Linked DNA regions of Homo sapiens: region 1 is reported to be linked to region 2. The links are microRNA targets in miRTarBase. Many come from high-throughput screens and were not tested one by one. Region 2 holds a microRNA gene; the other region holds the end of a gene's coding sequence.

Region 1 (4,377 bases), not on the chromosome of region 2:
GAATTGGAATGTTTGCCACCAGTGTTACCTAAATCTTAGCATTATGGACTTGGATTCTTTGCAGGTAGAGAAATATGTGATTTGAAAAAAAAAATACAGTAAAAACTGAGGTAATAGGATTTACTGATGCATCTTGTCCAACTAAACATAAATTTAGGTGTTAACTTTTCCCTCTCATTATGTGACAGACTTTTTCTTTACTCAATCATATTTCATTTAAAATGTCACTATTGGGAGACTCTCTGAATCTGCTGTGATTCTGGGGGCTGCTGGATAAGAAAAATAAAAAAGTATCACTATTAAAATTTTCAATTTTAAATTAAAATTGTTATTATTTTCCTATATTTCAAAATATTTGTGGTGTATTTGATTTGAAAGGACAAGAGGAAGTGTTTAAAATAAATGTAAATTTATTTTACAATGCCATGAAATGCAACTGAGGCAAAAACATCGCTATTTTACATTTTCTAATGTTATTTTCCTTTCACCTTATCTTGCTATGAATATGATTAGCAGAGTCTATACAGGGTATGTATTTTAGCATACTTTGTGGAATAATATTAGAAAATAGTATGATAGTAGTAAACCTAGCATATTTTAGATGTACATACTAATGCAAAAATACCACTTAACATAGAATGTAAAATAAAGCTTCTAATTTTTTGCATGGTTACTATATCTGTATGTTTATTTAGTATCTACTTTCTTTGAACTATATTTTTCAAGCATAGGATTAGTGTGGGATAATTCAGAGCATGCCAAGATATTTTACTTGTGACAGCTTAGCTTTTAATTTTCTTTTACCAAGCTTCTTCATTCACATATGTTTCTAGGATGAAGGATACTAGCAAAAAGAACAATATATTTGCTCAGTTCAGGAAGAATGATCGAGACAAACAGAAGTTGATAGAGACAGTCGTGAAACAGCTGAGAAGTTTGGTGAATGGTATGTCCCAGCACATGTAGACCTCACATGGCTTGCACTCAGTGACACCAAATCCATGATTCAATGTTGATCTTGAGCAAGTATTGGTCATGATACAGTAATTTGTTTACAGAATCCAAAAATACAATAGAGAAGATACATGAGGGCTTAAACAAGAAATAGTAATAAATATCATTTGTATGGATTTTTAAATAATCGAATACTATTTTATATATGGAAAAAAATGACCATTTTTTCACTTTTAGGGGAAAATGCAAAAGTGTAATACATAAATTGTCACAAATTATACATGAAATTGATTACAAATACATTTGAAAAACATATGCCTCTACTCATAAGTATTTTTTTCTATTTAGACTTGAATGATAATCTGTTTTTTGATCAGTATATGGCTTTGGAATTCAATCATGTCTGATATGGTAGTATTTCACTACCATTTTCTGACTTTTAGCTTTTATTTTCACCTCAATGTGATTTAAGCAGACCAAAATTTCTAATTCTGCTAATTCTGAAGGGGAAATAGACAAATCTTAAAAGCTGCCTGAAATCAAACTTGATTTAACTCAGTAAGAATGTGAATTATTTGTTCTACTTGGGTGGTTTAATTTAATCGTTCTGAATATGAACAAAAGGTTTTGGATTTTCTAAAGATGCAGTGTTGTTTCTGTTCATCAGGGTTAATATTTCTAACTATATTGCTTGTAGGTGACCCCATTCTGGATTTGTTTGGTTTGGTTTGGTTCCAGTTAAAAGAGAGGACAGGAACTAAATGGGGCTAACCACTTCAGGTGCAGCTTGTGCGAGGGTAGATGGTTCCTGCACACAGAAGTTACCACAGGGGTCAGGTTACTTTCTTCAAATAGCAGATTTCAGTACTTTATCCTCATTGTGGAAACAAGCCAAACCAAATGAACTCTGGAAAACCTAAAACAAATGTACATTTTCCTTTGTGTATGTTTCCGTGGTCCAAATGGCAATATAAATCCAGTCTTTATTCTCCCTTTGTTGTATTTATGCTGAATCTTCCCTTTGCCTTTTCAGGATTTAGGCCTGTAAGAAACTATGCCTGATTCTGTAAAATAAGTGTAAAGAATTATATGTACATCTCTGGATTTTGTGATGAAATATTAAAAATATTGAGCAAGTTGTTGAAAATGCATTACTATTTTGTCTATTCAGAGCTTACTGATTTAAAACAAGTGCTTCCTGGAGAAAAGGCATATTATTTCCTAGTTACTGGAATGGGAGTGGCACCAAAACAGTATATATACATACACACACACACACACACACATATATATACATATGCGCACTTGTTCTCTCGATCATCTCTTAATCCAAAGTATTTAATGTTTTTAAAAATATTACATGAAAAGCATGGTAGTTCTTCAGGCACGGTGAAATCTGGAGGAGAGGAGCGGTGAACAGCTAGCTCTCTTTGAAGACTGGAATGGGGCTGCCCTTCGCGCCTTACCCAGCCTTCCAGCGTACTTGGGGTGTCTTCCCTGCTTTGGCTGAGACGTCCCGGGATTCAGAGAGATACTGCCTTTGCACTGCCTGGAGGAGACCACTGTGGGACCTCTTTACTCTTACCAATAATATAAACACCCTGCACCCCTCCACACACACCCCAGGTTGCACTGTAGGGACAAGAACGAGTGAGTCCTGAGGCATTTGGAACCCTTGAATGGGACGCACAAAGCCCAAAACGCAACAATGTAGATTGACAAGAGTCGTCGGGCAAACTCGGGGGAGGGAGGGAAGGATGTGCAGGGAAGGATGAATTCGGTCCTTGAGACCGGAAAGGTGCTCGTGGGTATCCGCTTCTGGAGGCTTAGGACGTCTTTATGAAGCCTAGGGCAGTAGTGGAACTGCCATCTTTGGAAGGATACCTGACGTGGTAGATCAGAGAGCCGGGAGAGGTGGGGAGCTGTCGGAGAATCTCGGCTGCGCTATCCCTCCTGGGCTTTTGCGATGCCAACGCAGGCGTCGACGACTGCAGTTTCCCTGAAATAGTCGGAGCAAAGGAGAGAAAAGCCCAGTTCTTTCACCTTGGAGTGGCGAGAGAAAGGCACCTAGAAGCTCGAGGGCGGGGACGGCAGAGGGAGCCAGCGGCCGGGGGTGGGCCAGGAGCACTGCGGGGCGCAAGCCCGGGTCAGTTCTGCGCGTTGGGTTCGCCCACTTTCTGAGCGCCTGCGAAGAGCGGGGAAGCTCTGGCGCGAACCCGCAGGCCCCGCCCGAGGACGCTCGCGGGGCGAGCCCCCAGCCCAGCTCGAGCCGCCCCGGCGCCTGCCACTCCCTACTCAGAGCCCCTCCGTGAGCGCGCCGCTGCCCACCGCCTCCAATCACCACTCTGCGTGGAGCGCTTTAAATATGCAAAGACACGTCACGTTGTGTGAACCGGGATCGGTCCGTAGGGGGGGAGCCAATATCTATATAAACGTGTCCAGCGTGGGCCAAGAAGGGTTAAACGACTGGAGGAGGGACAGGTGGGGCGGGGGTCTGCAGACCAGGTTGGCAACACTGGTGAGTTGCTCTTCTTTCGCCCTCCTTCCCTTCTTCTATCCAAAGGGTGCTGAGCCCGGGAGGAGGTGGGAGGTGCCCCGCGGAGCCGGGAGTGAGCGTTCCCGAGGCAGCAGGCACCTTCGAGAGGGACTGGCATTTGGGCCCAGGAGCCAGGAAAAAGTCCTGAGCGTGCCGGCCTCGAGGAAGGCACGTTCCCTAAGGGCGCACGGTCACTGCAGTCTTTCACCGTCCGTCTGTTTTTAGAACAGAGTTCTGGCCTGAGCTTATAAATCTCGGGCTTTGCCCCCAAACCCCAGGCCTTTTGCGGACGGAACAGGTGAGCACTGCGCACTGCTCGCGCCCCGGTTCTTGCGTCCCCTGCTCTCCCTGCGCTCTGAGCGGCCTGGCCCCCGCGGGCTCATCATGTTCCCTTGGGGGCTGAGCTGCCTGTCAGTGCTGGGGGCGGCGGGCACTGCTCTCCTGTGCGCGGGCCTGCTGCTCAGCCTGGCCCAGCACCTCTGGACCCTCCGCTGGATGCTGAGCCGGGACCGGGCCTCCACCCTGCCTCTGCCCAAGGGCTCCATGGGGTGGCCCTTCTTCGGCGAAACGCTGCACTGGTTAGTTCAGGTGAGCAGTCCTTCGACCCCGAGCGCTAATACGGTCCCTTCTTCCCCCGGCTCCCACTGGACCCTCCTCAGTCTCAATGCCCATGGGATTTGTAGCCAGTCCCTGCCCATCGCCCACGACCCCGGGAAGCGCGCACAACTCTCGCCTTTACCTAGATACTCCGTTCCCTCGAAGGGACCTCAAGTCACTGGAATTCCCCCCAGAGCAACTCCCAGACACAACGCAGGGGGTAAACATAAGGGGTTTTAGGAAGGGGTCTGAGGAGCACGTCCTGCAAGGGTAGAAAAGGAGCCTGGAGC
Region 2 (4,399 bases):
ATTTATCTACACATGGGAGAAATTCTGTGAAGGGTATGTACTTCCTGTTAACAGACATTTCTGGGAAATGTGTTTGGAAGGTATGAGACACCTTTTACTTTTTGATGTCTCCTGATAATGGGAAAACAGTAAGAATGTGGGTTGTATGCATGAGTGTGATTCTACACGTGTAGGTTTAGGTTTGATGTACTCCCATCCAGCTTATTCTCTTTTGCATTTTCCAGCACAGGCAGTGCTGTGCAATGTCTTGCCCAGTGGACACCCACCTAATTTTCACTCCACAAACCACTGTCCTACATCTGATCCTTAACAAAGTATGTTAGTTGTAGACACAAAGGTGGCCTACATTTCATACTTGTTGACAGTAATGCTAGTTGACTCATCTTACCTTTGTCTGAGGAGGCTGGAAATTGTTTGTCCTCAGAAACTTTAGGGAGAAATTTATTACTAAGATTGTATCATTTTGGTCTCCCCAGAGAAATGAAAAATTAGAAATTGGCCATGTGACAATCGTTGCATTTACCTCTTTAAGGAGCAGTGATTCTTTAAGTGGTGCTTGATTTATCTAAACCCGATTAATTAGTGAACGGTCATCTGTTTCTCCCAGGAATTTTTAATGATCATTAGGCTTTTGTAGTTACTGTGAAATTTTGTTTACGTGGATTTATTTTTGTGCAGGATTGTATACAGGGCAGATGCTCCTTAATTTAAGAAGGGAGATGTGAGAACAAAAGTGTCTTCTCTTGAGTGAGGGCCTGTTATGTGCCCTGACTTGTTACAAATATCGACTAATGTAACCTTCTCTACCATGTACCTTTCTTCCAATTTATCAATGAGGAAACTGATGCAAAAATGTATGTTCCCACAGGCTCTGGTGTGTTCACTGAGTTAGCTCCAGAAAGAACTGTCCCCTTCTCATGCCTGTTCCCTACTTCTTTTGCAGCTAATTCTCCGAAATGGTTTCTGTCTTCAGCTTTCTGGGCTGCCCCATCACCTGTGTTGCTTCTAAATGTTAGTTTCATTGCTGCCTTCTGGGTTCCTCTGCTTCTCTCTGACATGATGTCTCTACGGATGCATCTCTCAGTAATGATTATAATGGTGGTGATGATAATAAAAAGAGAATACACAAGTGTTTTTATCAATCCCTGACCATGCTGGGCACAATGCTAAGCATGTGCAGGCATGATGTCTTTATTCTGCCCACTCAGCTGATGAGATTGAAGGGGCTCCCTGCAGGTTGGGGCCTGAAAAACACAGCCAGGTCCATCTAGGAACTAGAAGCTATGGTCAGGCTTACATGCTTTTTTCATATCAGTGTTCATGTAGATGTTTAAGCTCTTGCAGTAGGTTTTTGCAAGCTAGTGAACGCTGCCAAATTATGCTCGCCACACAATTGCAGCCACCTATTCCCAGGCAGTATAAATATATGGCTGAACTAACATTAATACCTATCACTGTTTTATCAAGTGACATAATCAAGATAATTATGAAGTATCCAAATATTAATTTTCATAGATTAAAAGCAGATAAAGTATTAGAAATCTGCTTATATCATTAGCAGAAACATTTTTGGGGGCCACAGGGTAAGGAAAAGAGGGGAAAATATTGTCCTTCAACAAAAGTAATCATATTCTAGTAAGTATAATAAAAGAAATGACAAGCTTTTCAGAATTTCCACGACTAAAAATTGTTTTAGCTGCAGCTAAAAAAGCATCACATAACAAAATATCTCTTGTTTAAAATATTTGCTACAAAAAAGTCCTATTCTATATGTCCTGCATAAGAACAAGTATCTTTATATAAGAAATGTGTTTAATAGCCCTCTTTCATTCTTTTTCTGAAGCCCTCCCTGTTAAATTGCACCCAAAGGGGAAACATTAATTGAACTGTAAAGCTTTTTTTTTTTCTGTCTAAAGACATTAAAGACATATAGGTGGTATTAAATGAACCTTTAACTAGAGCTCTGTGAGTTTTCAAAATAGATTTTATTTTTCTTTACCATAGGCCAACAGAGATTTTGAGAAACACATTGAAGGATCTGTTAACACTTGATATACCCAATAAAAGCAGTGGTTGTGCCAGTGCTGATCTGTCTTGATGTGAATGTGAACAATGGGAACCTGAGCTGAGCAGGTAAATAATCATGTAGTACAGTCACCGTCTTCAGTGTTTGAGATGACTAGCAGGGTAAACCACGCTGTGTCTAAGATGCAGTGTTAATTCTGTTTGAAGTAAAAATATGCAAGTGTGGTACTGGATATTTTGGCACGCAATCTTGCGAAATTTCTCATTGATGAGATTCTGACATAGGAACTACATTTGAGTAAGAATCATAGCTCAATACAGCATGATTTCAGGAAAGTCGACTAAGATAAAAGTGTTTCTGAGGCTGAACAGCAAGAATCTTTTGCTAAGAGTTAGAATAGATTGACAAGAACCTAAAATCAGAAGTTGCAATTCTGCTGAGATACTGCTTTTCAGTTCTCCGGTGGAAGCTTCATTGGACATATTGTACATCAAGCCTCTATGTGACTGATTCCTGCCTCTTTATGTCTTGTTTTAGATTCTCCATGGCAGTAGCTTTAGGCAACCCAGTTTTACTGAATGCAGCAATGGTTTCAGTGACCATTAGAGTCCAATTTTAGGATGATACTTCTCCAAATTGTTAAAACTCCCTGGTGCTTTTCTCTTATAAACTGCAAAATGTCTTCATATTTCATCCCGCTTTTCAGTTAATGCTAGGGTGACAGAAACTGGACCTCTCCCAAGACATGTGACAGAGTAATACAGCAGCCAACTTCTTCGCCAAATTAAAGTTTTACAAGATTTAACCTGTCATCAAGACCTGGGATTTTGGTGGTGAGTCATCTTCAAAAGCCAAGTTCGGTCCCTGGTTTGCCTTCTTTTCCGCACAAGAACAAGGGTTTTGATGGCTCTGGTCTCCAGGACCATCTGTGGCTTTCTATTAGCAATAATCGCACCTCGGTGAAACCTCATTGGCTACGATACTGCCACTGCGCAAAGCTCATGGCTTTCTTTAATAGCAAATGGCCTCTGACTTTTAAGAAGCCATGTGGCTACCCCTCAGCAGACTTAGGAGAGGTCTTGGCTATTATTTGTTGTTTTATAAGGTGTCATCATTGAGCATCTACTCTGGATGAGGCTCTGTGCTGGGCTTGAGGGGTACAGGGAAGTTTCACATGTCCCGTCTTGTTGAATCACACACACTTGATCTCACTACAACAGCAGAAAACAAGTTAAAGTTCCCCAGGGGTTGACACATTTGCCTGCCGTGTTTATTGCTGCTGTGATTTCTGCAGCATGGTCCAAAGAAGGCAATCAGTCAACAGTGAATGGGTTGAGATTTTGTGATTTTGGTTTAGGAGTCTTAATCTCTAGAATAAAATCTAATGAAAGGGTGGGGCTATGTTTTTCTCTTGCCTTGACTTCTTTGACTCTATTTGTAAATTCCAAATTTACCCAGGCCTCTGGCTCATTCTGTCTTAAGGTGCGGGGACCTCTAAAATGTAGATGGCAACAATCTTTAGACTATATGTGTCTTGATGGTAGGGCAATCAAATTGATTTCCTCAGCATATACGAGTCATGTTTTGTAAGCATGGTGGGTACTTAGTCAATGTCTCAATCAGATTTGCTTCTGTTTAGCAAGATAATCTTTTGTGGGGGAGTGTTATGGACTGAACTGTTTTCCTTCTTCCAAACGTATATGATGAAACCTACCCCCATGTACTCAGTATTAAGAAGTGGACCTTTGGGAGATAATTCAGGTTAAATGAGATTATGAGGGTGGGGCTCTCGTGATGAAATTAGTGCCCTCAAAATAAGAGACCTCAGAGAGCTTACTGTCTCTCTTCTCTCTCTGCTACGTGAGGACACAATGAGAAGGGAGCCATCCACAATGCAAGGAGAGGGCCCTCATCAGAACAGACCATACTAGCACCTTGATCTTGCACTTGTAGTCTTCAGAACTGTAAGAAAATGAATTTTCTATTATTTAAGCCACCCAGTCTGGTGCAGTCTATTATTGCCTTCCAAATGGAGAAATACAAGGAAACTAGGGCCGTCTTAGCTTCACAGAGAGAAGATGTGGAGAGGAGTTAGGAGGTAGAGACTGGACCTTGATGGTGGTGATATTCAATTAGTGAAAGGCTGAGAAGAGGTCAAATATACTTCTTGTGGCCCCAAAGATCAGAACCAAAATGGAAAGGTAGAAACAGTAGGCAAACAGAAAGCAACTTAATAAAAGGAAAAGGAACCTGAGAGAATGCTCTGTCTCTGACAGTGGTTGGGATCTCATCACTGGAGATATCCACACAGGGACTGTATTACTACTGAGAGGGGGTGGGGCTGAAAGGATCCAAGCATTGCACTGTGATGCG

Evidence for each region. Region 2 holds the annotated microRNA hsa-miR-1206 (UGUUCAUGUAGAUGUUUAAGC, at 1,316-1,336, shown strand). A microRNA usually pairs through its seed, bases 2 to 8, with sites in the 3' UTR of a target mRNA and lowers its output. Matches are read on the target gene's strand: a 7mer-m8 pairs with bases 2 to 8, a 7mer-A1 pairs with bases 2 to 7 and ends in A, and an 8mer does both.
Region 1: miRTarBase lists EXOC6 as a target of hsa-miR-1206. Seed matches in the 3' UTR shown: 7mer-A1 at 1,568-1,574.

The regions. Positions count from the first base shown.
Region 1 is chr10:93,057,390-93,061,766 of GRCh38, forward strand. It overlaps EXOC6 (exocyst complex component 6), which reads left to right. Exons shown (of 22, transcript NM_019053.6): 22 at 834-2,101. The coding sequence ends at 966. It overlaps CYP26C1 (cytochrome P450 family 26 subfamily C member 1), which reads left to right and starts at 3,409. Exons shown (of 6, transcript NM_183374.3): 1 at 3,409-4,078. The coding sequence starts at 3,875. RefSeq lists an enhancer at 3,427-4,336.
Region 2 is chr8:128,007,586-128,011,984 of GRCh38, forward strand. It overlaps MIR1206 (microRNA 1206), which reads left to right and starts at 1,313; the gene lies at 1,313-1,371. It overlaps PVT1 (Pvt1 oncogene), which reads left to right. Exons shown (of 9, transcript NR_190187.1): 5 at 2,005-2,133; 6 at 2,733-2,859. It also overlaps the pseudogene RNU4-25P.